7 separate regions of the Homo sapiens genome follow, and regions 1, 2, 3, 4, 6 and 7 are each reported to be linked to region 5. Evidence: microRNA targets listed by miRTarBase, many of them from high-throughput screens and not tested one by one. Region 5 holds a microRNA gene; each other region holds the end of a gene's coding sequence. Distances are from middle to middle.

Region 1 (4,340 bases), not on the chromosome of region 5:
ACAGACAAGCCTACTATCCCCAGAGAAGTCTTTGAAAATAGTGGAATCCTTGTTACAGATGTAAATAACTTTATAGAAAACATAGAAAAAATAGCAGCTCCATTTAGGAGTAGCTATTGGTAAGAACACTTTTTATGTAACTTTCCCATGTGAGTTGGAGTTGTTGATGGCAAATATTGACATTTGTGTCTAAGGGAAACAGTTGGGAAACTGTTGTTTACATACTTCATGCTATAAATTTAAAGTGTTTGTTTAGGGGTGGAATTGCTATTTGGCATAAATAGGAATTCCTAAATTATCACTAAATGAAGTAACCATCTACTAAAATTACCTATTTTATCTAATGTGCATTTTCACTTGCTGTTAACTTGGATCGTCAGTACAGAACATAATGTAACCTTAGAATGCATAGGCGTTTTCCCCATTAGAGCATCCCGCTTATAAAATATTTCTTGTTCGTATTATTTTAAGAAGTTCTTTATCAATTTTGTGTTTCTTCAGGTGACTCAACTACAGCCTGCCTGGATATGGATGATGCCAATAAAAAATTAGTATTTTCCCTTTGGAAAACTTGTGAACATGTGAATACACATGTGAACAGTCTTACATTTGAAAAACCAATGTTCTACAACTTGGAAAGTTTTCATTTTTTATATTTTGCTGAAATATGTCACAGTGGCATTGCAGTTGTCTGTTAGCTTTGGGTTGCAGTGCTAGATATTGTTTTAAATTATTTTCATTTTAAACAAGATGCCTTCTAAGCTATTGAGCTTATTAAAAATAATTTTACATGTTTACTTAGTTGGAGCAAAAATAAGTCTATTTTAACAAATAGCTTTGTTTTTGCATGCTAATGTCAGAAAGGCATACGATGCACATTATGCTCTGTTTTAAAGGTTTTACCACCCTTGTAAAAACTATAATCTTAAATGGTTTTATTTGCTGTTACACAAACAACACTACATAAAACATTTTTTCCTAAATGGTACAAATTTATAAACTATCATTTTTCACTTACGGTATTTGTAAATACTACACTACAAAAATCAGCTTTCTGAGAAAGAAATAATCATTTATTTATGATATTGAAAATTTCTACAGTAAACACTCAAAACCAAGCAAAAAACATTTGTAAGATACACGGTATCTATTTGGAGCAACGGTTTTTGTAACTAATGTGTTTCATTTTTTAAATAAAGACAACTAAAAATAATCTCTTTCTGCAATGATTTTTATAGCAGAAATTGACTTATCTGGAGTGTTCTAGCAATTTTTAGGTCATTTAGCAGAACAGTAAGCTTCCAGAGGAAACCTACACTTCTATCCTTTGGGCCTGGCCTGTTCTGTTTCTGGGTTCTTTCCGCAGTCAAGTACACCGAGTAACAGGTTAAAGAATGGCAGTTTCACCTGGCCTTTACAGGGACACTTACTTCTTTCAGAAGTCATTAAGTCGGCTTTTATTATTCCTAAACAAAAGAGCTTTATTTTCTCATGAGTAGGTTTTAGAGTTTTAATTGTTGACAATTTTTCAGTTACTAATAGAACCCCAGTCATTTCATTTTATTTTTCCAAGGACAAGAGTCTATTAAGGGAACCATTAACTATTCAGTACAGTGAATTACTTTCAGATTACTAAGGAAAAGGAAAGTGAGCAGTTATAAGATGCCAAACACCTATCTATCTGCCTGAAATATGCACCTTTCAGGTTGGACCTAATAACATTCACCTCCCCTTGCTGAAAAGCCTTCCAACACCCACGAGGCCATCTCAGTTTCCATGCTACCTTTTCTGTAACTCTACTAATAACCAAACCACATCATGTGTTCACCAAACTGAGTTATCCCAGTAACTACCATTATCATCTTTGTCTCCACTGGCCTGGCACACAAGGTATTCAGTAAATACGTTGAATGAAGAATATGAAGATGCGTGGTTTTTCTTTTTTCACTTATTACTAACCCAGCTTGGGCCTTTGCATGGGAAGAGAAAAAGGCTTGCTGGGACTTCAGATAATTTTATCATACAGGTAAAGCAGTGGTTCTCAACATCTGGAGACATTTTTGGTTGTCATTCCAAGATGGTGCTGTTGCCATCTAGTGTGTGGAGGCCAGGGATGCTGCTACAATCAACCCTATCAACAGAGAATGATCCAGCCCAAAACATCAACTGAAGTCGAGAAGCTCCATCATTTTGGCAATATGAATAACAATCTAAATCACCACCCTAGTTCCTTTAACACATCATCTACCTTAGTCTGTCTCCTTCATACTCTGAAGAGTCAGTGTTTATCTGTGGTAAACAACAGCATCTGCCGTGAGGCTCATCACTGTCAGGGGAAAGGGCCTTATATGTAAACACTTTATCATTTCAACTACACAAAAATTATTTACTAAAGCACCTACTCTACCTGACAGTTCACTTACTCCCTTATAACTGCTGCTACAAGCAAAATCATTAAACACTATTTTTTCTGCACAAAGATGATAGGTCTAGTAATGGTACTGTGTCAAGAATAAAACTCGAGGTCTACTCACAGGGAAGCCAGACGACAGGACCTGCTGTGATCCTTCCAGATCAGAAGACACCCACGCTTTCCGCTGCTGAGCATTCTGACTGGCATTGACTCCAGTGCTACCAAAGGAAGCACGGCAGCTGTGACCCTTGCAATCAGGACACACAAACCAACACCGGGCAGTAGTTTCCAGAATTTGGCTTTATTTTGCAGTACAGAAATCATTTGGAGCCATTTTGAGACAGAAGTAGAGGCTCTGTCAAGTCAATACTGCATTGCAGCTTGGTCCACTGAAGAAGCCACGCCTGAGATACAAAAGATGCACTACACTTGACCCGCTTTATGTTCGCTTCCTCTCCCCTTCTCTCTCATCAACTTTATTAGGTTAAAACACCACATACAGGCTTTCTCCAAATGACTCCCTATGTCTGGGGTTTGGTTAGAATTTTATGCCCACATAAACCAAACTTGTGGCTATGCTATTTGGGCCCTGCCATAACATTTGACATAATACAAAATATAAAGTCATAGGGAAAACTTCCGGATGCTGTCCCAAACCGTGGAATATTCAATTTAGAATCTCCTGAACCTCAAGAGGACAGATGACACACAACCTGTATGGATCCAGCTCTTGAGCAGCAGCAGCACATAGCTACACTGATTAAAAGATTAAAAAAACTGTCTCAAGTTGTCTGTGTCGGTATCCCAATGTTTGTTTAACTTCACTAGAAAAAAAAAAAGCCAGTTTGGTTAAATTGAACAGAATGTGGTAACTGCCAATGCTGAATAGCCACTCCATGAAAACAAGTTAATAATTAGAAAGGTGAAGGGGAGTATTTACTGGCACAGCGCTCTTCATTCTCTCCATTTTCATTACAAAAGCAGGCCTTACAATATTGATTTCATTATATGCATTATTTGCCAAATTTTAAATGTGTCCTAATTACATAATAACATGTACTGCTGTTAGTCTTCCCCATAGATGTCATTCTTCTTGCGCTTCATTTCCTCAAAGTCAAACTCTGATCCTGTCATCCTCTTATAGATGTTTTTAATGTCATCACACGTTGTCTCAAAATGAGTGGTGGCATCATATGTGCGGGAAATAAAGATCTGAAAACAAAAATTACGAAGACTTAAGACCATGGAGGGATGTCTTCCAGTGAAACCTGCCCATATCCTTTCACACTTCCATACTCACCTGGCTTTCTGTTCCCAAGTCTTTTGGTACCAGGAGGTCACTGATGCTAACAAATCTGGAGGGAGAGAGAATTCAGTCAGGTGAGCTGGTCCCACACCTGACCATGGCTCTGCCTGAGGTCAACTGAGAGGTACAGATGAATCCCACAGAGCAGCCAGCAGCTACCTGCCTTGCCCTCACATTCGTCCCACCATGGAGCCACAATCAAAGGCCTCAGTTTGCATCTCGGCAGATATAAAAGAACACAACTCACTTCTGTTCAATTGGTTCCAAGAGCTCCAAAGCTGGTCTGATTTCCTTCTCAGGCTCCTTGGTTTCCACAGTTGTACTAACTATAGCAATGTACTTCCCTTGTGCTGCTACATTGTGCGCAAAGGAGATCATGCAGACGTAGATATCTAGAAACAAATGATACCAGCTCACTGCCTCAAGTGTCTCCATCTGGGACCCAACATACTCAGGTATCACCCATATGTCATGAGGTGTGAGTTAAAATTACTCTCAATAGGCAAGATCTTCTACACTTAAGTTCTAAATGGTGACAGAGTTGGATGTAAAGTACACAGATATTTAACAATAGGAATTTCTTTTAACCTACTAGAGATTAAGAATTGAAGTGGTAGCGAA
Region 2 (4,340 bases), not on the chromosome of region 5:
TGGATGCTCCTTCCAACAGGAGCTGGGATCCTAAGGGCTCACCGTGGCTAAGAGTGTCCTAGGAGTATCCTCATTTGGGGTAGCTAGAGGAACCAACCCCCATTTCTAGAACATCCCTGCCAGCTCTTCTGCCGGCCCTGGGGCTAGGCTGGAGCCCAGGGAGCGGAAAGCAGCTCAAAGGCACAGTGAAGGCTGTCCTTACCCATCTGCACCCCCCTGGGCTGAGAGAACCTCACGCACCTCCCATCCTAATCATCCAATGCTCAAGAAACAACTTCTACTTCTGCCCTTGCCAACGGAGAGCGCCTGCCCCTCCCAGAACACACTCCATCAGCTTAGGGGCTGCTGACCTCCACAGCTTCCCCTCTCTCCTCCTGCCCACCTGTCAAACAAAGCCAGAAGCTGAGCACCAGGGGATGAGTGGAGGTTAAGGCTGAGGAAAGGCCAGCTGGCAGCAGAGTGTGGCCTTCGGACAACTCAGTCCCTAAAAACACAGACATTCTGCCAGGCCCCCAAGCCTGCAGTCATCTTGACCAAGCAGGAAGCTCAGACTGGTTGAGTTCAGGTAGCTGCCCCTGGCTCTGACCGAAACAGCGCTGGGTCCACCCCATGTCACCGGATCCTGGGTGGTCTGCAGGCAGGGCTGACTCTAGGTGCCCTTGGAGGCCAGCCAGTGACCTGAGGAAGCGTGAAGGCCGAGAAGCAAGAAAGAAACCCGACAGAGGGAAGAAAAGAGCTTTCTTCCCGAACCCCAAGGAGGGAGATGGATCAATCAAACCCGGCGGTCCCCTCCGCCAGGCGAGATGGGGTGGGGTGGAGAACTCCTAGGGTGGCTGGGTCCAGGGGATGGGAGGTTGTGGGCATTGATGGGGAAGGAGGCTGGCTTGTCCCCTCCTCACTCCCTTCCCATAAGCTATAGACCCGAGGAAACTCAGAGTCGGAACGGAGAAAGGTGGACTGGAAGGGGCCCGTGGGAGTCATCTCAACCATCCCCTCCGTGGCATCACCTTAGGCAGGGAAGTGTAAGAAACACACTGAGGCAGGGAAGTCCCCAGGCCCCAGGAAGCCGTGCCCTGCCCCCGTGAGGATGTCACTCAGATGGAACCGCAGGAAGCTGCTCCGTGCTTGTTTGCTCACCTGGGGTGTGGGAGGCCCGTCCGGCAGTTCTGGGTGCTCCCTACCACCTCCCCAGCCTTTGATCAGGTGGGGAGTCAGGGACCCCTGCCCTTGTCCCACTCAAGCCAAGCAGCCAAGCTCCTTGGGAGGCCCCACTGGGGAAATAACAGCTGTGGCTCACGTGAGAGTGTCTTCACGGCAGGACAACGAGGAAGCCCTAAGACGTCCCTTTTTTCTCTGAGTATCTCCTCGCAAGCTGGGTAATCGATGGGGGAGTCTGAAGCAGATGCAAAGAGGCAAGAGGCTGGATTTTGAATTTTCTTTTTAATAAAAAGGCACCTATAAAACAGGTCAATACAGTACAGGCAGCACAGAGACCCCCGGAACAAGCCTAAAAATTGTTTCAAAATAAAAACCAAGAAGATGTCTTCACATATTGTATTTATATATTTATATTTATATATATATTTATATAATGGTACAAAATGGCTGGGGGTGTGGCCATGGATGGAGGGAAGAGTAGGCTGGCCTGTGGCGTGGGTGGGAGGAGAGGGGACGGAGAGGGCACTCGGCCCGCTGCAATCTGACCCCTCTCTCCTCAGGGCAGGAAACACAGAGTCAGACAGTTTGGGGGGGTCTTGGGCCAGGGGTGGAGGGCTCAAGGGCACAGGGCCCAGGCTGAGGCAGGGCGGGCAAAGCGCCTGGCAGGATGAAGGGCAAGTGGCCCCCCAAACACAGAGGCCCTGGCCATGGACCCTGGGAGGTGACCGGGGTGAGTCAGGGGCCTGTTGTCAGCCCCAGAGGAAGCGCTGGACCTGGCCGATGGTGGGCCGAGAGGACAGCACCAGGCTGGGAGAAGTGGGGCGAGTTCCCTTTGTATTACAGCTGCCAGTGCAAGACCAGGCCCTCCAGGCCAGGAAGGCTAGGGACGGGTCCTGGTAGAAGACACCCTGTCTAGAATGGCCCTTGGTCCTGGAGGTGGGGCGCAAAAGGCCTCAGCCAGGGAACTGCCCTGCCACCTCCCGAGGCAGGAAAGGAAGTGAGAAAAGGAGAAGTTTTTTTACTCCTGGGGCCAAAGTAGGGGGACAAACACCCAGTCGTATATGGCTTCAGCTCTGACCAAAGGCGGATAGGGAGCTCTCCTGGGTAGGAGCAGGGAGCCAAGGGGGAGGCAGTGGCTGTGCCTGGGTGGGCACAGACAGATCTGGTACATGGCCCTGAGCCCTGGGCAGAGGGACAACCTTGCCGGTGAGTGGGCAGGCAGAGAGGAGGCGGCAGGATGCTGTTTCCCCGATTCCATCCTCAGGGAGTGGAGACTGGAGGGGAGGTGCACTGACTCAGATGAACTGTTCTCCCCCTTCTTTGATAAGAAGTAGGTGGCAGCAGCCTCTGGAAAAGTCAGGGCCCTGGAGGTTACCTGGCCCAGGGCTACTACAGCCACAGGCCCCAGTGGCACCATGCCACCCCTTCCATGGCTCCACTCAAGGGGGCCACACAGCCACCGCCTCTTCCTCCTTTCCTTCATCCCAAACTGGGACAAAAGACTTCAAGTTCTGGCTAAGATGTAGCAGCAGCGGATGCCCGGGCATCCAAAGTGGAAAGCCAGGGCCCCGTGTCACCGGTGTGGGCAAACACACATGCACGTGCACACATGTTCTCCCTGAATCACTCAGCAGCAGACAGGCTGCCGCCCTGGGGGTCTCAGCCCTGCTAGGGCTCACCAGGTGGAAGCCTAGGTGGTCTGACCTCAGTTTAGGAGTGGGTCATTTACGTCATCTTACCATTTGGGGACGAGACAGGAATGGTATCCCTTAGGGACCCAGAGACACTGCAAACAGTGGGTGGCCATGTAGGGCTGCATGTCCCTGGGTCCAGGGGAATGGAGGGAGCAATAACTTGAAGAAGGGGGGAAGGGTTTCTTTTATCCTTTTTTTTTTGTGTGACTTCTATCAAAACACAGAAATACAGCACACGCACAAACCAGCACAAAAGCGCAGCGCTCTATTTACAGCTCCGGCTGGCACCTGCCCACCTGGCCAGCCGCCTGCAGGGAGGGGTGGGAGAGGGGTCAGCCACATCAGCAGGGAAAGGATACGAAGCAGGTAAAGACAGAAGGAAAATGGGCGGGTGCGGAGAAACCAAGAGGGAGGTGGAGCTCCAGCAATGCGGACACGAGGAGACAGGAGCAGAAGGGGCTGGGGGAGACCTGACCTGTCCTTCCTCTCTCCCCCCAGATTCCCATCCAGGACTCCAAAAGCATAGCTGAAGGGGGTGTGGCGGGTGCAGGGATGCACGGAAAGAGGTAAAATAGAGAGGCTCCATAGGAATTGGGAGGAGTGGGGGAGGGGCAGTCCTGGTGGCCGAAATGGAACCAACCCCAATGCAAAATCCCCCACCCCACACTGCCACTTCCCCCTAAGCTGCCAGCACATCTGGTTTCCACAAATGCCACTCCCTACACAAGCCCCCTCCCACCCCCTCCACCCCACCCCGCGACCCAGGCCATCCCAACATTGAGGGGAAGAACTTTGTTAAGGTTATCGTATTTGCAACATTGCCCCGGCTCCAGCCCTGGCAGCGACTTCTAGAAGGGCAGGTTGGCCATGCCGCCTGGTGCCGGGAGGTAGCCCATCTGGCTGTCCAGGGACACACTGCGCTGCCGAAGGGGGTGGGACACCATGAGGTTCTGCTGGGGCGGGGGGCCCATGAGGGAGCCCTGCGGGGAGAGCATGTGGGGCGGCTGGCTGTAGACCTCGCCCCCCACGCCCCGCTGCTTCATCAGCATGAAATTCTGCTGGGTCATGAGGCCTTGTGGAGGGGACATGACCCCCTGGTGCAGGCCATGGGGCACCATCCCCTGCTGTGGGGGCACGCCTGTCCTGCCCAGCAAGGACATCTGTCCAGGGTGGCACATGGACATGTTGAGCCCCCGCTGGACGCCCTGCTGGCCTGGGAGGTTGGGAGGCCGAGAGGGAGTCTGCTCCGCCATCATGTTCTGCAGGTTCATGAGATGCAGATTAGGGGGCTGAGCCTTGGGGGGCTGGTTCTCGCTCTTGGGGAAGTACTGGAGGGTGCTGCTTGGCTTCTCAGAGGGGATGATCCTCGACAAGTCGAACTCGGGGATCCCCGTTGGGGTGGGCCGGATCACCTCGCTCAGCTCGGGGTCGTTCAGCACTGATGCCACCCCAGGGAGCACACCCGGTGGGTATGCGTCGCCCATGCGC
Region 3 (4,340 bases), not on the chromosome of region 5:
CTAATTTTTGTATTTTTAGTAGAGATGGGGTTTCACTATGTTGGCCAGGCTAGTCTCGAACTCCTGAGCCCAAGTGATCCACCCATCTCAGCCTCCCAATGTGCTGGGATTATAGGTGTGAGCCACTGTGCCCGGCCAGGCTTCCCAGTTTCTAAGTCAAAAAACCAGGAAAGACTGTGGATGTGGGGTTGGATCTGCAGCGCCGGAAATGAGTCCCAGGGTTGTAGGCAGGGGAGGATGTTTGATCATCTGCTGGAAGGAGCAGAGTGGACATCCCATTATAATTCGGGTGGGTGGGAAGGTTCTGGTTGGGAGGGGTGGCCCTGGCATTCCATGCTCTGCCTGCTCCTAGGTCGTTGAGGAAGAGGAAGACTCAGGTGCCCCGCCCCTGAAGCGCTTCTGTGTGGACCAACCCACAGTGCCGCAGACGGCGTCAGAAAGCTAGCACCATCCCGGCCCTCCGCCTCCTGGCCCTGCCTCTATTTATTGCATTCTGGTTCTGGCCGCGCCGCGTTGCTGGGGTAAGGGCAAGCACTGGGGTCAAGAGCCTGCACACATGAGCCTTCCGGGCTGGAAGGCTGGCGTAGGACTTGGGGCTGTAGCATCATCTTCCTGACCCTGGCACCTGTGTCTACTTGCTCCCGAGAAGAGGAGCGCTCATGTCTTTTTTGCACCCCAAGTTGGCTGGAGCATCGGCCACCCCAAGATTCATCTGTGACCTCCAGGCAGCAGTCTCTGCTCCAGAATCTCTGGACGGAGCTGCTGGCAGCTTCTGCGAGAAGAGAGAGATGTGGAAGGCACCTTCTAGAAGAGAGCGTGCCTCAGGTTACTTGAACTTGAACGGAGACTGTAGACTCCCGGACTTTCCCCTAGGACTGGGGGCCCTGTAGGCTGCTGTTGGAGGACTGGGTAGAGACATTGGAGGGAAGGGAAGGGCTTTTCTCCACACAAGGGCAGAGAGTCCGTCTAGATTTCTTGCTGTCCTGCCAGCTCTGCCCATGCCTGAGGTGGTCCTACCTCTCACGGGCACCCTAGCTGCTGACAGCCCTTTGTGGCCGCCGTCCCCATCCCCTGCCCTCAGCACACACATCTGCACACACGCAGCTTTGTTCTCACCTCTACCTGTCATTCCAGCATCCCTGCCTCTTGTCACAAACTGCCCCAGCAAGAATTTGAGGTTCTGACAACAGTACCCATCCCCCACAGTACCCCTTCAGCTCAGTTTCTAGAAAGCTCCCTTTTCTTTGAAATCTGCATGTTGAATTGAACTTTGTGATTTTATTTTTTGTTTCAAAAAAGTTTAAGAAAATGGAAATGGGCAACAGTGAGTGAAGACATATTTTAGCACTGAATAGAATATTTTTAAAATTAAACTATTTGAAATATGTCCTGTTGGTATCTGAGTGCTTCCTTCTTGAAGGTTGCGGGCCGGGGTGGGGGTGGTGGCTGAGTGCTTGTGGGGTCACTGTGGGCTGGGCCTGCCCATCCTTTCACTCCCACAGTGTGGACTTCATGACAGTGATTTCTAGCCTCCCTTTGAAGCTGTCACGTAGTTCAAATTATGCTTCTCGCTGGGCGTGGTGGCTCATACTTCTTATCCCAGCACTTTGGGAGGCCGAGGCAGGAGGATCACTTGAGGCTAGGAGTTTGAGACCAGCCTGGGCAACACAGCAAGACCCTATCTCTATCTAAACAATATTTTTAAATTAAAACATAAAAACCAGGCCAGGCGCAGTGGCTCCCGCCTGTAATCTTAGCACTTTGGGAGGCTGAGGTGGGTGGATCATCTGAGCTCAGGAGTTCAAGACCAGCCTGACCAGCAAAATGAGACCCCATCTCTACTAAAAATACAAAAATTAGCCAGGCATGGTGGCAGGCGCCTTTAGTCCCAGCTACTTGGGAGGCTGAGACGAGCATTGCTCGAACCTGGGAGGTGGAGGTTGCAGTGAGCCAAGACTGCGCCACTGCGCTCCAGCCTGGGTGACGGAGCGAGACTCCATCTCAAAAAACAAAACCAAATTCCATCCCTGTGTACACCAAATGCAGCCCATGGATGTGTTTTCCACAGGTCCATGTAGTTCGGAGGGATTCATGAGTTCTTTTTTTCCCCCCTTGTGGTAAAATACACGTAACATAAAAGGTTTTTGTTTGTTTGTTTTTTGAGACAGAGTCTCACTCTGTCACCCAGCAGGCTGGAGTACAGTGGTGTGTTCTCAACTCACTGCAACCTCTGCCTCCCAAGTAGCTGGGATTACAGACGTGCACCACCACGTCTGACTAATTTTTGTAATTTTAGTAGAGGTGGGGTTTCACCATGTTGGCCAGGCTGGTTTCGAACCCCTTAGGCTCCCAAAGTGCTGGGATTACATGTGTGAGCCACTGCACCTGGCCAAGAGTTACTTTTGTCACCATTGTGAAGTGTGCATTTCAGTGGTACTGAGTACTGAGTACATTCACAGTGCTGGGCAGTCCTCACAGTCCAGCTCCGAACTTTTTTATTATCCCAAATGGAAACCTCATGTCCAGTTAGCATCATTCACCATTTCTTCCCCTCCCCTCGGGCCCTGGCAGCCACAGATCTGTTTATTTCCCGGAGTGATTCCCCTCATTTCTCACAGGGGCTCCAGGTGTCATGGATGAGACTATAATACAAGTTCTACTGTTCTATGTTTTGTTTTTGTTTTTTTTGAGACGGAGTCTCGCTCTGTCACCCAGGCTGGCAGTGGCGGGATCTCGGCTCACCGCAAGCTCCGCCACCCGGGTTCACACCATTCTCCTGCCTCAGCCTCCCGAGTAGCTGGGACTACAGGCGCCTGCCACCACGCCCAGCTAATTTTTTGTATTTTTAGTAGAGACGGGGTTTCACTGTGTTAGCCAGGATGGTCTCGATCTCCTGACCTCATGATCTGCCCGCCTCGGCCTCCCAAAGTGCTGTGATTACAGGCATGAGCCACCGCACCCGGCCCCTGTTTTATCTTTTCTTACAAAATATAAATAGGGCTGGGGCTGGGCACGGTGGCTCACGCCTGTAATCCCAGCTACTCGGGAGGCTGAGGCAAGAGAATGGTGTGAACCCAGGAGGCGGAGCTTGCGGTGAGCTGAGATCACGCCACTGCACTCCAGCCTGGGCGACAGAGCAAGACTCCATCTCAAAATATATATATATATATAAATATTTTTATATATATAGGGCTGGGCACAGTGGCCTGTAATCCCAGCACTTTGGAAGGCTAAGGCAGGAAGATTGCCTGAGCCTGGGAGTTAAGACGAGCCTGGGCAACATGGCAAGACCCTGTCTCATTAACAAATACAAAAATGTAGGCCGGGCGTGGTGGCTCACACCTGTAATCCCAGCACTTTGGGAGGCTGAGGCGGGCGGATCACGAGGTCATGAGTTCGAGATCAGCCTGACCAGCGTGGTGAAACCCCCATCTCTACCAAAGATACAAAAAATTAGCCGGGCGTTCTGGCACATGTCTGTAATCCCAGCTACTTGGGAGGCTGAGGTACAAGAATCTCTTGAACCTGGGAGGCGGAGGTTGCAGGGAGCCCGATTGCGCCATTACACTCCAGCCCGGGCGACAGGGTGAAACTCTGTCTCTAAAAAAATAAGTAATAATCTTTTAAAAATGTAACAGCCAGGTACAGTGGCTCATGCCTGTAATCCCAGCACTTTGGGAAGATCGCTTGAGCCCAGAAGTTCGAGACCAGCCTGGGCAACATGGTGAAACCTCATCTCTAAAACAAAAACAAAAATTAGCTGGGCATGTTGGTGCATGCCTGTAGCATCCCCTGCTCGACGGCTGAGGTGGGCGGATCTCTTGAGCCCAGGAGGTCAAGGCTGTCGTGAGCCGTGATCATGACACTGCACTCTAGCCTGGGCGACAGAGGGAGTCTCAAAAAAAGAGACATATAAAATCAAATTGTCAAATGAATTTTACAGATAATGTGATTGTATGTGGTACACAAAATACGTATTTTTTTTCTGAGACAGAGTGTTCTCTGTCACCCAGGCTAGAGTGCAGTGGCGTGATCTTGGCTCACTGCAACCTCCGCCTCCCAGGTTCAAGCAATTCTCCTGCCTCGGCCTCCTGAGTAGCCGGGATAACAGGTGCCTGCCACTGTGCCTGGCTAATTTTTGTATTTTTAGTACAGACGACGTTTCACCACCTTAGCCAGGCTGTTCTCGAACTCCCAATCTCGTTATCCACCCACCTCAGCCTCCCAAAGTGCTGGGATTACAGTCGTGAGCCACTGCGCTTGACCCTTTTTTTTTTTGTAAAGACAAGGTCTCACTATGTTGCCCAGGCTGGACCCACCTCGGTTTCCATTTCCCAAAG
Region 4 (4,340 bases), not on the chromosome of region 5:
GCCAGGGCCCCGGAAGCGGCTCTCTGGTGTCTCGGTGCCTGCTGGCCGGCTTCCTCCCCGCCTCCCGACTGCTCTCGCCAGATTTCACTGCTTCGCGCCTGTTCTCAGCTTTCCCCCCAGATTTCTGGGGGAGGGGTTGGGCTTTCCGAACCACTAGGAGGGCGGCCCAGGAAGGGCCCGAGGGCGGAGGGGGAGCAGACAGGGGGCCCGAGGGGACGCACGTGTACCTGGAGGGCTTTCCTTCTGTCCCAGACCCTGTCAGCCGCGGCTCTCGCCTGAGAACTGGGGACGGGGTGGCGCAGTGGCGGGGGGGTGGGGACCCGCTAGACCTGGCAGGGGGTCGAGGCTTGCCCGGGTGCTGCGGCTGCAGGAGAGCCAGCCGCCTGGCGGGAGGGCTGCCCGCGGTGGGCTAGGAGAAGGGCCGCTGAGCGCTCAGCGGGCTGGGGTCGCCCGGGTCTCACGTGTCTCTCTCCCCCCTCTCCTCGCACTTGCCCCCTCCCCTCCCTCCAGACGCCCCCCGCACCCGCAAGAAGCGCTGCCCTTATTCGAAATTCCAGATCCGGGAACTGGAGCGAGAGTTTTTCTTCAACGTGTATATCAACAAAGAGAAGCGGCTGCAGCTGTCCCGGATGCTGAACCTGACGGACCGACAAGTGAAAATTTGGTTTCAGAACAGAAGGATGAAAGAAAAGAAACTGAGCAGAGACCGGCTGCAGTATTTCTCGGGAAATCCTCTGCTGTAACCTGCAGACCGGGCCCTTTTGGGGGCGGGGGGAGGGGAAAATTATTTTATTTTATTTTTATTTTTTATTTTCTAACTCGTCTTCTTTCCGCCGGTGGAAAACTGGACTGTGGCCAGGGCTGGCCCCCACCGCTGTGGCCGGCACTCCATTCCGGAACCTCCTGGACCCTCTATCTGACTCTCGCTGTGGGACAGGGACCGGGCCTGGAAAGGGGGTGAAGGGAAGTGTCTGATGCACGGCGAGTGAACACCGTTGGCGCCGAGGCCAAGACTTTGATTTAAAAGAAAACACACCTCGGCGACAATGTCTTGCTGCTCGGATTAGGTGGGGGAGGGGCGACAGTAGTGAGCGCCTGAGCCGAACAATCCTCGAACTAAAAGCCTTCCCTTGCCCATGTGAAAAGATCCGCTAAGACAGCATGTCTGCCAGCGGAAACTTCTCGAGCTCCCCCCTCTACCCCGCCCCACCTTGCAGCTAAATGTGATCCTGCCTTGCTGTGAAATTTCTGTACCTTCAACCTGGTGTTAGGTGTGCAAAGTCCGTGTCCTACCTCCGTCTTCGCCAAGGCCCCGCCCGAGCCTAGTTGTTCTCCCCCTGAATGTGTAGAACCTTCCTTTGAAATTTCTTAATCGGTGCATTGAGGTTTCCACATCTTTTTCCAAGCAGTGCCCCACTTCATGGATTTATAGCTATAGTCTATGCAGTCGTTACCTCTTTTTTTTTTTTTTTTAAGAAAATTGAAGATTGGGGTGGTGGAGGCAGTAGGGAGATGGGATTGGGCACCTCCCCCGTGCTGGGGCCTGGATTTTTGTAAATAAATTTCCCAAGCGTTTCTTTCCACCTGGAGGGAAAGGGGGGGACGCCCCCAGTGAGATTCAAATCACGCATCTCTACTCCTCTGCGTGAGTGCGTGTGTACATGTGCACTCCCCACCCTGCTCCCTTCCCAGAGGGATTGCTGTGAAATTTTTTTGGTGGCAAATAAAGATAAATTTCATTCTGTTCAATATTATGATTTTATTTGACCCTTTTATTAACCCCTCTCCTCTTAAAATCCTCCATGCTCCCATGGCAGCGGCGGAGGAGGAGGAGGCAGGCAGGCAGAGCCCAGCGGGTGAGGACAGGCAGGCAGAGGTGAGATAGGCCGGTGCTAGCCGGCCTGGAGCTCCTCTCCGCTGGCAGGGCCAAGAGTATGGCCGTAGTCTCCTCACATTCTCAAGCTGAGGACATTCCATAGCTACTCTGAAGCTCTCCTTTCTCACGTGCAGCTCGAGCTGTGTCCAAACGCCCAGCAACGGCTTTCTGTTTAAGTACACGTTTGTTGTGGAGTTAATTGTAACCATCATCGAATTTAAATTTATAGGAATTTTTTTGGCTCCACCGCCCTTCTGCCAGATGTCTCCGTCTGTCGCAGTTAAATGTGTAGTGTGGAGGTTAGGGCTTTTTTTTTTTTTTCTCTAGGAGAAATCTGTATTGGAATTTTTATACACTGTTTTTAAGGAAGGAGGGGACAGAAGGAGAAACCAGCCCCCTCCCTCTCCTCTCCACAGCTCCTGGGGGTGGGAAGGTGGGGCCTGGCTGCTTTCCCTCTGGCACAAATGGCCAGGCTCTTCCAGACACAACAAGACGCCTATACTGGGGCCACCCTGATGTTTATACATTGGGTGTCCCACAGTAGAAAGCCCCAGAGGTTTGTTTTGTAGGGGTTGGCACTGGGGATGGAGATGACCTGCGGGGACAGTCACCATACCCATCTATATTTGCTGCATGTTTCTTCTGTATAAAGATAATCATGGCCCTTGCAGTGCTTTCAGTGAGGGCACTTCGTTGGTCTCTGTTTCAAATTCGTTATTTGGGGGCAGAGGTTCAGGACAACTCATCTCATCTTTCCCTCCTCTTTCTGTCTTTGTATAATTCAAAGAAAATATTTTTGTCAATACAATTCTGTTGGATGAAAGGAAAAAGCATCATGACTATCAAATCTAGGTTCTGTCATTTTTGATGGTAGGAATCCCTGCAGCTTAGGTATCTAAATTTCTAATTTGTAAACGTGGGTCGGGTCGTGAGACAAGATTTGCAAACTAGGGTGTATATGCAGCCCACAATTCCCTCATGTGCCCACACACAAACGTTTTATTTAACTCGGTGTGCCTATGGGTGCACATAAGAAGGAATATTATTTATATGCTTTTGTCTGTTGCATGGAGTAAACCTGACCACATACACATCTAGAGCTTGTGTCTCTGTGGTGTGTAACCATTGGCAGTGTTTGTTGAGTGTGGGCAGGAATGCAACTGAGGGGCCTCTGTACATTTTTGTGTGTGTATGTGTGTGTGACACTTCTCTAGGTATGATGTTTATCCACTAGCCACATTAGGAAATATTAGCCTGCTGGTGATGTTTCCTGTGAAATTAGGATAGAGGAAACTCTATAAGGTGAACCTATTTATAAAGCAAAATATTAGCCTCCAAATGCCTGATTTTGGAGAAAAATATTTAAAACCCGCAGGTAACACTTTCTCTGCAATGTGGAGCCCAGAAATGTCCTCAGCTCCAAAAGAGAGTTCTGGTGGATGAGAGGAGAAGGTCATCATGAAAGAAAAACAAAGGCTTCTGTGACCCAAGCCAGGAATCTGCCAGTCCTTGGTGACCCTCTAAAAAGGAGGAAAAAGGGTTTTTTGGCCCCCAAACAAACCCACCTTCCGTCTCCCAAGGTGTCCAACCCCCCTTGCAGGTCAGGGGCACTCTGGGCTCAACCTCTTGGGGTAATCCCCTCTAGCCGCAGCACTGCCCGGGAACAAAAGATCCTCGTCTAGACGCTGCCATAAAGCACCCCCTCACGTTTCTAAACCCAGTTTCATTTCGACCTTAACGACCCAGTCTGGCCTGTATTAGAAACCACTTCCGCCCTAAATAGTAAACAAACCTGTAGTGGAGGGTCTTGGCTCTCCCAACACACTCAGACCCCCACCTCCTCAGCCCGTTGCCCCACATTTTTCCTCTTTTCTCCAGCCTTTCTCAGCTCCCAGCACCCCAGCCCCTTTCCTCCCCGCCGCGCCCACCCCACCCCCCCGCCCCAGTAAATAAACCTGAGGCCGAGTTCAAAGTTTCCCGGAGCTAAGGAGGAATGCTGGTTGTAAAAATCCAAGTTTATAGTGCACGTGGGAGTTTACAAGGGTATTAAGTGGTGTGGGCTGAGAGAGCACTCTGGGCCCCTCCCCCTTCCACCATGGGCTTTGGGGTGCAGGAGGAATCAAGGGCACTCGAAATGAGAAATGGGTTTAGGAGTAGCCTTGAGTTTGGGGTTTCTTTGTCACTTAGACTCTTAGGTGGCTGAGGAATGGCGATGCAAGGGCCCCTTGTAAGAAGACTCGAAACCCCTGCCAAGCACCTCTGAGAGAAAACTCCCTGGCTCTAGTTGTCCCAGATGGAAAGATTGGGGAGCCCTGTTCTGGGGGAGCAAAAGGTGCAAACCAGGTGTCTGAAAGGTGAACAGAGTTGGGAATACCTAGAGCCAGTTCTCAACCAGAAGGGGAGAAACTACCTTGGGCTAATTTCTCGAGTGGGCTGAGAGCAGAAAGGGCTCTTCTCTTAAGAG
Region 5 (4,340 bases):
TTTGATTTGCATTTCCCTGATAACTGATAGTGTTGAGCATCTTTTATTGTGCTTGTTGGTCATTTGTATGTCTTCTTTGGAGATATGTCTGGTCATTTTTCAATTAGGTTATTTGCCTTGTCATTGAGTAGTAAGAGTTCTTTGTTCTAGATACAAATCTAAAATCAGATATGTGATCTACATATGTTTTCACCAATCTGTGGGTTGTCTATTCACTTTTTTGATGTCATTTGAAACACAAGTTTTTAATTTTGATAAATTCCAATTTATGTGTTTGTCTTTTACCGCTTGCAATTTTGATGGTGTTATCAATGGTGTAAAAATCATTGCCTAACCGAAGGTCACTAAAATTAACTCCTGCATTTTCTTCTCATAAAATTTTAGCTCTTACATTTAGGTCTTTGATCCATTTTGAGTTAATTTGTTGCGTGTTGTGAGGAAAGTGTGCAAATTGATTCTTTTGAGTGTCAATATCCCTTGTCGGGCCCAGTGCAGTGACTCATGCCTGTAATCCCAGCACTTTGGGAGGCCAACATGGGAGGATTGTTTGAGCTCAGGAGTTCAAGACCAGCCTGGGCAACATAGTGAGACCTCATCTCTACAAAAAATACACAAAAACAAAACAAAATTAAATGGGCATGGTGGTGCATGCCTGTAGTCTTAGCTACTTGGGAGGCTATGGCGGGAGGATTGCTTGAGTCCCGGAGATCAAGGCTGCAGTGAGCTATGATACACCACTGCACTCCAGCCTGCGCTACAGAGTGAGACCCTGTCTCCAAAAAAAGAAACAAACAAACAAACAAACAGACAAACAAAAAACCACTTGTCCTAGCACCTTTGTTGCAAAGATTAATTAGTCCCCCATTGAATTGTCTTGTTACCTTTGTTAAAAATTGAGGGTCCATTTATAACAAAATAATGTTTTCCTAAAGTTAAAAGTTGCTACTGTTACCTCTCAATTTTAACTTTTTTTTTCTTTTTTAATTAATGTTTTTTACCCATGGCAAGCTGTAATAGCTTTTTTGAGGGGAGGTAGGTGCTTTATAAAGAACAGTAGGTGCTGCTTATCAACAGATGAAAGGAGGGTTCTTTTTCAGGCAACCATCTCATTTGTGAGTGAATGCACTTTCTCTTTAAAGTGCTGGGATTGTTAGTGCCATTTTTATTGTAAATATCAGAATTGTTATTTTTTGTCTTCTACCTAAGAATTCTGTCTCTTAGGCTTTCTCTTCCCAGATTTCCCAAAGTTGGGAAAAGCTGGGTTGAGAGGGCAAAAGGAAAAAAAAAGAATTCTGTCTCTGACATAATTAGATAGGGAACCAGTTGGGAAGCTGTAAGAATAATGCAGGTGCAAGGTGGTGGTGGTTTGAGCCGGGTGATAGCTGTGGATGTAGAAGGAATCTGAATATATTGTGTCATAGGGTTGACCTGATTTGCTAATGGAGTAGTTAAGGATGTGGGAAAGTGGAATCAAGCATGGCTCCAAGGTCTGGGCCTGAAAAACCGGGAGAATGAGTTCACATTAACTAAGACGGGAAAGACAATGGTAGGGGCCTGTTTAGGGAAGAGCTAGGAAGAGATTAGCATCTCATTTCTAATGATGTAATACATAGAATCTTGCAGGAGCCTTTAGTGAAGTGTAGTTTAAGTCATCTAATACTAAAATTTATATAAAGTGTCCAGAATGCCTTTTACTGTAAATAACTTATTAAAATAATAAACTGCATAATATTAAGTGTGATATTTGTCAGAGATGTTAAGTGATTATAGGACTCCCAAACTAAGAATGCTTTATAATTATCATCAGTATTCCCCTTTACCTTGGGGCATGTAGAACTGGCTTTAAGATGTGTTTTGTGGGGAGTTTTCTGTGGGTTTTTTTTTTTTTTTTTTTTTTTTAGATGGAGCCTCACCCTGTTGCCCAGGCTGGAGTGCAGTAGCACGATCTTGGCTCACTGCAACCTCCGCTTCCCAGGTTCAAGCGATTCTCCTGCCTTAGCCTCCCGAGTAGCTGGGATTGCAGGCATGCAACACCATGCTCAGCTAATTTTTTTATTTTCAGTAGTTATGGAGTTTCACCATGTTGGCCAAGCTGGTCTCGAACTCCTGACCTCAAGTGATCCACCCGCCTCAGCCTCCCAAAGTGCTGGGATTACAGGCATGAGCCACCATGCCTGGCATGTATTTATATGTTTAAATTAAAAGATGTTTCAACGGCATGGTAATTGGCATAGAGCTGAGACAGATAAATAAAAGGAACAGAAAAAAAATCCAGAAATATTCCTATGCATATCTAGATAGTTGATGTATTTAAAAAGCACAAAGGCAATGCAGTGGAGAATGTATAGTCTTTTCAACAATGGTACTGGAGCAACTGAATATCCATATGCAAAAAGAAAAATTGAACCTTAATTCATACCTTTTACCACATACAAAAAATAACTCAAAATGAATCAAAGACCATTGAAAACAACATTATAAAACTCTTGGAAGAAAACACTGGAGAAATTTTTTTCTACCTTGAATTAAGCAAAGATTTCCTATATGATATTAAAAGCGTAAACCATAAAAGAGCAAATAGATAAACTGAACTGCTCTTCAAAAGTGCCAATAAGCCAGGTACAGTGGTACACGCCTGTAAACCCAGCTACTCAGGAGACTGAGGTGGGAGGATCCTTTGAGCTCAGCACTTCGAGGCCAGCCTGGGCAGTGTAGTGAGACCCAGTCTCTTACAAAAATGCAAATAAGAGAATATAAAGATAAACCACAGACTAGGAGAAAATATTTGCAAAGCATATATCTGATAAAGGATTAAAAACTACACCATTTTAGGCCAGGCGCGGTGGCTCACGCCTGTAATCCCAGCACTTTGGGAGGCCCAGGTGGGCGGATCACAAGGTCAGGAGATCGAGACCAACCTGGCTAACATGGTGAAACTCCGTCTCTACTAAAAATACAAAAGAAATTAGCTGAGCATGGTGGTGGGCACCTGTAAGTCCCAGCTACTCTGGAGGCTGAGGCAGGAGAATGGCGAGAACCAGGGAGGTGGAGCTTGCCGTGAGCCAAGATCGCACCACTGCATTCCAGCCTGGACGGCAGAGCGAGACCCTGTCTCAGGAAAAAAAAAAAAAAAAAAAAAACCTACACCATTTTGGGCCAGGCACATTGGCTCATGCCTGTAATCCCAGCACTTTGGGAACCGAGGCAGACGGATCATGAGGTCAGGAGATCGAGACCATCCTAGCCAACATGGTGAAATCCCGTCTCTACCAAAAATACAAAAAGTAGCTGAGTGTGGTGGTGCATGCCTGGAATCCCAGCTACTTGGGAGGCTGAGGCAGGAGAATCGCTTGAACCTGGGAGTTGAGGTTTCAGTGAGCCAAGGTCATGCCACTGTACTCCAGCCTGGCGACAGAGACTCCGTCTCAAAAAAAAAAAAAAAAAACTACACCATTTTAAAAGTAGCCAAAAGGTACTTGAAAATTGCCAAGAAAGTAGATTTTAAGTGATCTACCACAAAAAAAGTAATAAGAATATGAGGTAATGCCTGTGTCAGTTGTCTCAACTTGGCCATTCCACAATGTATACACATTTTAAAAACACATGTTGGCCAGGCACAGTGGCTCACGCCTGTAATCCCACCACTTTGGGAGGCCGAGATGAGCAGATCACCTGAGGTTGGGAGTTCGAGACCAGCCTGACCAACATGGAGAAACCCTGTTTCTACTAAAAATACAAAAAAAAAAAAAACAAAAAAAACAAATTAGCCGGGCATGGTGGTGCATGCCTGTAATCCCAGCTACTTGGGAGGCTGACGCAGGAGAATCACTTGAATCCAGGAGGTAGAGGTTGCGGTGAGCTGAGATTGCGCCATTGCACTCCAGCCTGGGCAACAAGAGCAAAACTCCATCTCAAAAAAAAAAAAAAAAAAATGCCAGGCACTGTGGCTCATGCCTGTAATCCTAGCACTTTGGGAGGCCAAGGCAGGTGGATCACGAGGTCAGGAGTTCGAGACCAGCCTGACCAATATGGTGAAACCCCGTCTCTACTAAAAATACAAAAGTTAGCCGGGCATGGTGGTGGTCACCTGTAATCCCAGCTGCTCAGGAGGCTGAGGCAGGAGAATGAACTTGAACCCGGGAGGCAGAGGTTGCAGTGAGCTGAGATCATGCCACTGCACTCCAGCCTGGGCGACAGAGTGAGACTCCATCTCAAAACAAAAAAAAACATGTTGTACAACCTAAATATATACCATTTTTCTTTGTCAGTTTACAAAATTATTTAATCAACTTTAAACATAAAAATGGCCAAAAGATTTGTACAGTTACTTCACCATAGGA
Region 6 (4,340 bases), 210 Mb from region 5:
GGAGTGCAGCGGTGTGATCTCGGCTCACTGCAACCTCCGCCTCCCGGGTTCAAGTGATTCTCCTGCCTCAGCCTCCCAAGTAGCTGGGACTACAGGCGCCCACCACCATGCCCAGCTAATTTTTTGTAGTTTTAGTTATACACATAATTATATAACGTGGTGAAAATTTGGGCGACACACAAGGTTATTAATTTTGAGGTGGAGTGGATGGAATAGAGAGGGGCGATATAGTCGGGGTTAGAGATGAGGTTTCATCATGTTAGCCAGGATGGTCTCAATCTCCTGACCTTGTGATCCGCCTGCCTCAGCCTCCCAAAGTGCTGGGATTACAGGCATGAGTCACCATGCCCGGCCTCCTTTGCTGTTTCTTCTTCAGCTGCCTAAACCCTAAGTGTGACGTCTGTCCTGCTGGGGCTTGGACCAGGAACCTCAGAATGGACTGATCAGCAGCCAGTGTAGCGCGGAGACTACTACTTACTCTTGGGAGGCTGAGACTGGTTAAGGTGTGGGGGTGCTTCCCCAGGCCTGGGGGCAGAGGCCACATTTTATTGTGAACATCACACTATGTTTGGTATTTGTCACTGGTGATAGCTCTAGAAGCTGTGGATCACCAAGAGACCAGAAGAAAACAAAAGAACAAGTTTGGGAAGTCCACAAGGCATTTTATTCCACAGGAAGAAAAATGATGACTCTGATATGAGAACCAGACTCAAGAGTCTTCACACACTGGTGACTGTAATAGTGTTTACATAATAGAGAACCAGATATTTTTAGAATTTTATCAAGCAGCTACTATGGTATTTTGAGGCCCAGATCATACTTACAAACAAAGTGGCCCTGGAGCCTTCAGAACATTGCGATGAGCACCCACCAAGCAGCAAGACACTCTTGGGATTTGGGGAAGGGGCCGCTTGTCTGTTTTCCACTGTGTAGTGACCAGGCCCAGGGGCTGGGGAAGCACTGGCCTGGCTCACCCTTCAGTGAGCACAGAGAAGCAGCGACAGCCAGGGAGTGACACGGGTCGGCCAACTGTGCTGGGTCAAGGGACTGGGTAGCTTTGGATATCTCCTTACCCAATTTACTCTTATTCCATTTATTTTACTTTCCTCAGAGACGAACTGTGTGTTTGAAGCAGAAAGAAAAGCAGTAGAAATGATCTTAACAAAGTCTTAGGCATTGCTGGCTGAATATCAGTTTACAAAGAGACGGGGCATTTAAGGAGCCAGGGGCAGGGCCTGTTTCCTCCAAAGCTTTGGATGTTTTCCTGGTGAGAACCAGGAGGGGATGTCAAATGCCCCTGAAACCTTCTGGCCTTGTCTGGCCCAGGGCTGCAGGGCAGGGGAGAGCTGAGAAGTGGAGCAGCTCGCAGTTGGCCCTCCCATCTCCCACCCAGCCCCGCCCTAGGTGGTCTTTGGATTCCATTTTAACATCTGCCTCTCCTAAGGTGCAAATGTCAAAGTGCTTGGTTGTGCAATCACAGGAGATGGGCAGCTATTTAAAGAGCTGATTAAAATTAGAAAGGAGCCCAAGGGGGGCATCTGAACACTTCTCTGGATTCCTCCTGAAGCACCAGCCCACAGGGCAGCCCGCAGCTAACTTCCTCAGTCAGGTCTGAGAACACCCAGCACTGCTGCGGCCCAAAGCAGATTTTCTTAGTAACACTAAACTCCTTAATCTCATCAAGAGATTTCAAGTGACTTTGTTCCAGAAGGTGATAGAAGGCTCACTGACGCATACAATCAACCCTTCCGAGAGTCTCATCTTTTAAGAGATCATGATCTCAGGCAGTAGGTTACTGATGACAAAAACCACAAGCCAAACCTGTGGGGGTGCAAGGAGGGAGGCTGAGGAGGAAGCTGCAGAGGAGCTGCCATCTTGTGCAGTGCTGTATCCTGCTGCCATCTTGTGCAGTGCGTGAGTGCTGAGACAATCATCACCACCCCCCAGCAAGACACACACAAACTAAAACTCACCCAGTGCCGCAAAAGCCAAGTTTCCATTCTGCAATCCACTAACTTGGAGTTCAGCAAAGGCAACCAAGCCTCGGAGTTCAAGAAAGCTGATCCTTGAACACTATGTAGCTACTTGTGCTAAAGCTCCCTTCCTTCCTCTCTGCATGCACGCGCGCGCGCGCACACACACACACACACACACACACACACAGACACAGACACAGAGGGGAAGTGGGAGAGGAAAGGGAGGGGAAGAAGATTAGCTTCATTTGTGTCTTGGAAGGATTTGGGTCATGAGTTATAAACACCAAAACCTTCCACGCATCCACTGATCCACTGAGTCATCCCAGACTCAGCTACATGTGACAAGGTTGTAGAAATTGATTAGCTTTATTAAAATAAAAATTTAAAAATCACAAGGTGACTCATTCATTCTAAAGTGAGGCCCCTTTTCCCTTCTCCCTATCTGCTTAATCCTTACAGAAAAGCGAAACACCAAAAACAAGACCCAGGGCGCTCATACCAGGCCTTGCTCCCAGCAGGAATTTAAAACCAAGGATAAGAGATGCCTTTGTCAAATCTTGGTTCCATGAAAAACTTACCAACGCAGCTTTTTAATACTCCTATTTCATCCCCCTTTCTGGAACTCTCCCTGCTCCCTTCTCATCCTGGGGTTTCCATCCTGTGTCCCCTCGGGCTGTGGAGCTACGATGCCTGCCTGTGGCTTTATTAAAAAGAAAACAGTCCCGGGGCTTTGTTCTTGGTTGTTGCTGCCCAGGCAGGAGAGCACTTTTATGTGGATTTCTGATTTGTTGCAACAGTTCAATGGGACTTTTTTTTTCCTTCTCAATCAACAGAGTTTACCAATGTTTCCAACCTCTCTAATAATAATAACCTGAGAAAACTTACAATGCTGACTTGCACCCATGTGGTAATGGAGCACAGGTTTCCCCCTAAGTTTGGTAAGACTAGTTAGGAAAAAGCCAAATGGATAACTTACATCATAATTTGTAAGAATCTAAGCACTCTTTGTAAAATGGGGGTGAGAAATTAAAAGTGGGCTCCCAAGCCCCTCTCCTAGATCCTTCTGAAGGGCCAGCGCCAGTCCTGGGTGCCACAGCTCACAGCCCAACTGGACAGCCACGATGTCAAAGGCGTCCCTTTCAGGACCACAGCCCTCACCTCAACCCACTTTACTGGGAATACTTTAGTCTCCAAAACTAAGACGTAACATTCTTTAACTTTTAAGAATGCCTTTCTATAGACAGTATCCTGAATTAGACATCTAGAATTAGTGCAATAGAAGATCCAATATAACTTTATATTACTTTACAGTTAACAAACCTTTACACATAGCACAGACCCTGTTCAGAAACGTTCCTATATATTTACAAACACACTGTTGTACATATATACATGTTAACAAAATACAGGGCAATCTAAAAATTAGATTCATCTCAGTACATGTTTTTAAACGTTATTTAACCAATACCTTTAAAAATTATTTCCCATAATCTAAAATAACTCCCTGCCTCACAAATTAATACGATTTCCATTTGTACTTTTCCTCATGAGGATTTACTTTCCCTCATTCCTTGACAACTTCCCCAAACCCGACTCCGGTTCTGCCTCCATCGTCAGCTGAGAGCTGGGCCTCTTTCCTCCTGGTGGGTCTGCGCTGTGTCGGGAGCGCCCATCTCAGCAGCGGGGCTTCAGGAGTCCAGCTCCAGCTGCTCTCGGTTTTCGCTGAGTCTTAACATAAGCTGCTGTTCATAGTAGAGGCTCTTTGCGTAGTTTATTTCTTGTGACAACTTGACAGCAAGGACCTCAGATTTCACATGGACCTAAGGAGGAGAACAGGATGGGTCACCTGTCCCCAGGATGGGGAAATCCAGGAATCAGATCCACCCAGGTGGCGGCTCCCAGCCCAGCTGCATCTCAGGATGGGATGTACACGTCAAAGAAACAGTGATGGCCAGGGCTGCTCCTGCTTCACTCGCACTCACAAGTCTGGGGTGGGTCCCTGCAATTTTTTTTTTTTTTTTGAGACGGAGTCTCTGTCGCCTAGGCGCAATCTTGGTTCACTGCAACCTCCGCCTCCCGGGTTCAAGCGATTCTCCTGCCTCAGCCTCCCGAGTAGCTGGGACTACAGGCATGTGCACAGCTAACGATTTTTTTTTTTTTTTTTTTTTTTAAGTAGAGATGGGGTTTCACCGTGTTAGCCAGGATGGTCTCGAACTCCTGACCTCGTGATCCGCCCGCCTCGGCCTCCCAAAGTGCTGGGATTACAGGCATGAGCCACTGCGCCCAGCCGGTCTTTTTAAACATTCCCCAGGACTGTACAGCCAACCCATACTCACCTGACATTTGGGAACTCCCCCCCACGGC
Region 7 (4,000 bases), not on the chromosome of region 5:
GTCAAAAGGCAAGGAAGTGCTTCGAGATTAAAGGGACTGTCAATAGGACATAAGAGCCGGCTTAGAGAGGCTCCCTCTAGCCTAATCTGGGATGATTTGAAAATCAAGAAGAATCATAAATTCTAACACATAGGGTATTTTAAAAAATCTGTGAATCAAAAGTGTGAAAAATGGAAAGTTCTTGTTCACAAAAAAGTCAATAAATGTAGAATGAATGATGGTATTAGAAAACCCCCATCTTAGCCAGGCACGGTGGCTCACGCCTGTAATCCCAGCAATTTAAGAAGCTAAGGCGGGTGGATCACTTGAGCCCAGGAGTTTGAGACCAGCCTGGCAACATGGCGAAACCCTGTCTCTAACAAAAAAATACAAAAATTAGCTGGATGTGGTGCCACACACCTGTGGTCCCAGCTACCCAGGAAGTTGAGGCTGCAGTGAGCTGTGATCATGCCACTGCAACTGCAGCCTGTGTGACCAAGACCCTGTCTTGAAATAAATAAATGAAATTCCCATGTTGCAACTCTTCTTTAATAACTGATTGATGCAAAGAATCAACAGATGTTAAAGCCATTGGGTTAGATTGTTGAGGAATAGGATATTTGCATAGTCTCAACAGGTTCCTTCTTAAAGTGAAAAAGTATCTTAGAATGGAAAGAAAAGGCAAATATCACTTTAACCAAATGTCACCAATAATAGGACAAACTGACATGTGCCTTCTGATGCCATACAAATGGAAAGTACATACCTTCCAGACAATATCCTTTAAATCTAATCATGAAAGAAACAGACAAATCTAGAATGTGGAGCATTTTATAAGTCAACCATCCTGTAGTCTCCAAAAATGTTAGTACCAAAAAAAGGCAACTAGCAAGGCATTATGGCTTATGCCTGTAACCCCAGCTACTCAGGAGGATTGCTTGAGCCTAGGAGTTCAAGACCAGCCTAGGCAACAAAGCAAGACTCCAACTCTCAAAAACAACAACAACAAAACAAACAAAAAACAAAACAAAACAAAACTTAGCACTGTGGCTTGAGCCTGTAGTTCCAGCTACTTGGGAGGCTGAGGCAGGAGGATCGCTTGAGCCCAGGAGTTTGAGGCTGCAGTGAGCTATGATGATGCCACTGCACTCTAGCATGGGCAACAGAGCAAGACCTTGTCTCAATAAAATTAAAATAAAATAAAATAATAAAATAAAATAAAATAAATAAAATAAAATAAAAAAATAAAATAAAAATAAGTAAAACAAATTGGCCAGGTGTGGTGACACATGCCTGTAATCCCATCACTTTGGGAGGCCGAGGTGGGCAGATCACCTGAGGCTGGGAGTTCGAGACAAGCCTGGCCTACATAGTGAAACCGCATCTCTACTAAAAATACAAAAATTAGCCAGGCATGGTGGTGCATGTCCGTAATCCCAGCTACTCGGGAGGCTGAGGCAGGGGAATCGCCTGAACCAGGGAGGCGGAGGTTGCAGTGAGCTGAGACCATGCCACTGCACTCCAGCCTGGGCGACAGAGAGAGGCTCCATCTCAAAAAAAGAAAAAAATGATAAAAGAAAAATAAAACAGAACACCAGAGAGAAATCAAAGAAGAGTCTACTTTTTTAAAAAGGGGGCAGGGGCCTAGCGCCGTGGCTCACGCCTGTAATCCCAGCACTTTGGGAGCCGGGGCGGGCAGATTACCTGAGGTCGGGAGTTTGAGACCAGCCTGGCCAACATGGAGAAACCCCGTCTCTACTAAAAGTACAAACATTAGCTGGGCGTGGTGGCGGGTGCCTGTTATCCCAGCTACTCGGGAAGCTGAGGCAGGAGAATCGCTTGGACCCGGGAGGTGGAGGCTGCGGTGAGCTGAGATCGCGCCATTGCACTCCAGCCGGGGCAACAAGAGGGAAACTGTCTTTAAAAAAAAAGAAAAGAAAAGAAAAAGAAAAAAAAGGGGTGGCGGCAGGGGGAATTACTCTAGAGGAAAGGATGAAAAGGAGGAGACTAAACTTAATGTATCGACTATGTCTGAGTTCACAATAAAAATAAAACAAAAACATTTAGATATAAAGGATATTTCAGGAGCAATTGGGGAGTATCGATTTTATATACATTAGCTATTATTGAGTCAATGTTAAATTTCTTGGGTGTCATAATGGTATAGTGGTTACATAAAAGAATGTCCTTGTTCTTAGATATGTGGTGATATATTTAGCAGTCAGTCATCATGATGACTGAAATTTATTTTCAAAAGGATCAGCGGCCGGGTGCGGTGGCTCATGCTTGTAATCCCAGCACTTTAGGAGGCCGAGGCGGGCGGATCACGAGGTCGGGAGATCGGGACCGTCCTGGCTAACACGGTGAAACCCCGTCTCTACTGAAAATACAAAAAATTAGCCGGGCGTGGTGGTGGGCACCTGTAGACCCTGCTACTCCTGTGAACCCAGGAGGCGGAGCTTGCAGTGAGCCGAGATTGCACCACTGCACTACAGCCTGGGCGACCCAGTGAGACTCCATCTCAAAAAAAAAAAAAAAAAAAAAGAAATATACACATAAGAGATAGGAGATAAAACATATAACAAAATGTGAACACTTGGTGAATTAGATAAAAAGAAATGGATGTTCACTGTACTATGTTTACAGCTTTCTGTAGCTTTAAAAAATTTCAAAAGTCAGAAAAAACATAATTTATGTGTGGCTAATATGCTATAGTTGATTTTATTTAGATGAATGTGCTAAGTACTGATAAATTATTTAGTACTTTTTCAAAAGCCCACCATGAAACTCTTTCCCATCACAGCTAACCAAGCTAAAAGGTGAACTGTCACATCTAGCAAGTGCCAGCAACATTTTGTCTTCCTCCCCAACGTGAGTCAAGAATCATGTTTGATCTATCTGTGAAATTAACAAACCAGCAAAACACCTATATCATTCAGCCACCTTATCAAAAAAATTTAACATTGGAAAATCTGTAATCTTCTGGTTTTAAAATAATTTATTTCATAGGTCTGTTTTAATTTCATGTCTCACAGCATACATTATTTAACCAAGAGGTGCTGGACAGAGATTGTAAAAAGGGAGGAAACATTTAGGATAAGAAACCGGCTCAATTCCATTAGAATTTGATCCTATCTTGTAAAGTCTTGCTAGGATAAATTTCTATAATACTTCTTTTGTGCTTACAAAAAAACATTAACTTCTGAATTTCCAATGTTGTAAATAAAAAAATTTTACAATTAGGTATGCATTCAATTAACACACAAGGCAACCAAATAAATTCTGTCATCAACATTAGCATAATGTGTATTTCCCGTCACTGCACTAACATTAAACTAAACTTCAAACCACAAAAACATTGTGACTAACATTAAAAAGGCAAGCTGTAAGATACTCAAAGCTTATAAAGGACAAATTGCACATGGTTAAGATGGGACATCATTTGACAAGGGCTGGTGTTGTGCATATGGCTGCTTTTTTTTATAAGAAGGCCACCGGCAAACAGGGCAACAATGTCGGCCCCCAGCCAACCACATCACAATGCAATTCTGATGAAACACATGACCACAAGGCAACCCCATTAGCAAACATCCATTTTCAAAATTCTCTAGGCAAACAACACATTCAGTACAGTGCAGCATATCAGCAGGCCAAGTTAACCAATCAGGTTCCATATCTTCATTAGTGTTATATGATCCATATGACCTCCCCTTCCTTTCACATGGGCTGGTCTGACAATATTTATTGGCACATGAACAAGCCTCAGCATCACAGTGACTTGCTGTTCCTGGAGAATTGTGAAGTACGCTTTGCTTATCTTCAAATACTTCCTTCTCACTACTCAAAGTGTCTGTGTTCTCACTTTCCGAGTCATTTTCAGTATCTTGAGACCCCTCCGACATTTCCTCTTCAGACTGGACTCCAAGACATTTAAATCGCCACATTGGTAAGTTTTTAATATAATCAGTTGGTATCAGAGGGTGAAGCCAAAGGTCAGGGAAAGCTAAGCGCTCCAAGAATA

The links. The annotated mature microRNA hsa-miR-320b reads AAAAGCUGGGUUGAGAGGGCAA and lies in region 5 at 1,253-1,274, shown strand. An mRNA with a match to its seed (bases 2 to 7 or 8) in the 3' UTR can be bound and repressed. Matches are read on the target gene's strand: a 7mer-m8 pairs with bases 2 to 8, a 7mer-A1 pairs with bases 2 to 7 and ends in A, and an 8mer does both.
Region 1: miRTarBase lists TASOR2 as a target of hsa-miR-320b. Seed matches in the 3' UTR shown: 7mer-m8 at 1,048-1,054.
Region 2: the mRNA of BCL9L is a reported target of hsa-miR-320b. The part of its 3' UTR that is shown has no 7-base or 8-base seed match.
Region 3: miRTarBase lists BCL7B as a target of hsa-miR-320b. Seed matches in the 3' UTR shown: 7mer-m8 at 1,102-1,108.
Region 4: the mRNA of HOXC11 is a reported target of hsa-miR-320b. The part of its 3' UTR that is shown has no 7-base or 8-base seed match.
Region 6: the mRNA of VPS13D is a reported target of hsa-miR-320b. Seed matches in the 3' UTR shown: 7mer-A1 at 2,092-2,098 and 7mer-m8 at 2,056-2,062.
Region 7: miRTarBase lists RNF103 as a target of hsa-miR-320b. The part of its 3' UTR that is shown has no 7-base or 8-base seed match.

What each region holds. Positions count from the first base shown.
Region 1 is chr10:5,762,528-5,766,867 of GRCh38, forward strand. It overlaps TASOR2 (transcription activation suppressor family member 2), which reads left to right. Exons shown (of 22, transcript NM_001321783.2): 21 at 5-119; 22 at 502-1,213. The coding sequence ends at 505. GDI2 (GDP dissociation inhibitor 2) reads right to left here. Exons shown (of 11, transcript NM_001494.4): 9 at 3,967-4,111; 10 at 3,714-3,768; 11 at 2,696-3,625. The coding sequence ends at 3,479. Among named protein-coding and RNA genes, the nearest start is that of GDI2, 49 kb to the right of the region's middle.
Region 2 is chr11:118,894,715-118,899,054 of GRCh38, forward strand. It overlaps BCL9L (BCL9 like), which reads right to left. Exons shown (of 10, transcript NM_001378213.1): 10 at 1,422-4,340. The coding sequence ends at 3,701. CXCR5 (C-X-C motif chemokine receptor 5) reads left to right here. Exons shown (of 2, transcript NM_001716.5): 2 at 1-3,073. Among named protein-coding and RNA genes, the nearest start is that of CXCR5, 13 kb to the left of the region's middle. RefSeq lists enhancers at 1,050-1,808, 3,428-3,935.
Region 3 is chr7:73,533,403-73,537,742 of GRCh38, reverse strand. BCL7B (BAF chromatin remodeling complex subunit BCL7B) reads left to right here. Exons shown (of 6, transcript NM_001707.4): 6 at 353-1,387. The coding sequence ends at 445. Among named protein-coding and RNA genes, the nearest start is that of BAZ1B, 13 kb to the right of the region's middle.
Region 4 is chr12:53,974,671-53,979,010 of GRCh38, forward strand. It overlaps HOXC11 (homeobox C11), which reads left to right. Exons shown (of 2, transcript NM_014212.4): 2 at 511-2,973. The coding sequence ends at 743. HOTAIR (HOX transcript antisense RNA) reads right to left here and starts at 284. Exons shown (of 7, transcript NR_186241.1): 1 at 228-284. RefSeq lists enhancers at 1-276, 607-756, 4,246-4,340.
Region 5 is chr1:224,253,983-224,258,322 of GRCh38, reverse strand. It overlaps MIR320B2 (microRNA 320b-2), which reads left to right and starts at 1,213; the gene lies at 1,213-1,283. All of the region lies in intron 18 of NVL (nuclear VCP like), which reads left to right. RefSeq lists a silencer at 1,282-1,576 and an enhancer at 2,688-3,613.
Region 6 is chr1:12,508,349-12,512,688 of GRCh38, reverse strand. VPS13D (vacuolar protein sorting 13 homolog D) reads right to left here. Exons shown (of 70, transcript NM_015378.4): 70 at 642-3,796. The coding sequence ends at 3,665. Among named protein-coding and RNA genes, the nearest start is that of SNORA59A, 3.3 kb to the right of the region's middle. RefSeq lists an enhancer at 3,779-4,280.
Region 7 is chr2:86,600,439-86,604,438 of GRCh38, forward strand. RNF103 (ring finger protein 103) reads right to left here. Exons shown (of 4, transcript NM_005667.4): 4 at 2,960-4,000. The coding sequence ends at 3,405. The region is part of intron 3 of RNF103-CHMP3 (RNF103-CHMP3 readthrough); the gene reads right to left. All of the region lies in intron 5 of CHMP3-AS1 (CHMP3 and RNF103 antisense RNA 1), which reads left to right. Among named protein-coding and RNA genes, the nearest start is that of RNF103, 21 kb to the right of the region's middle.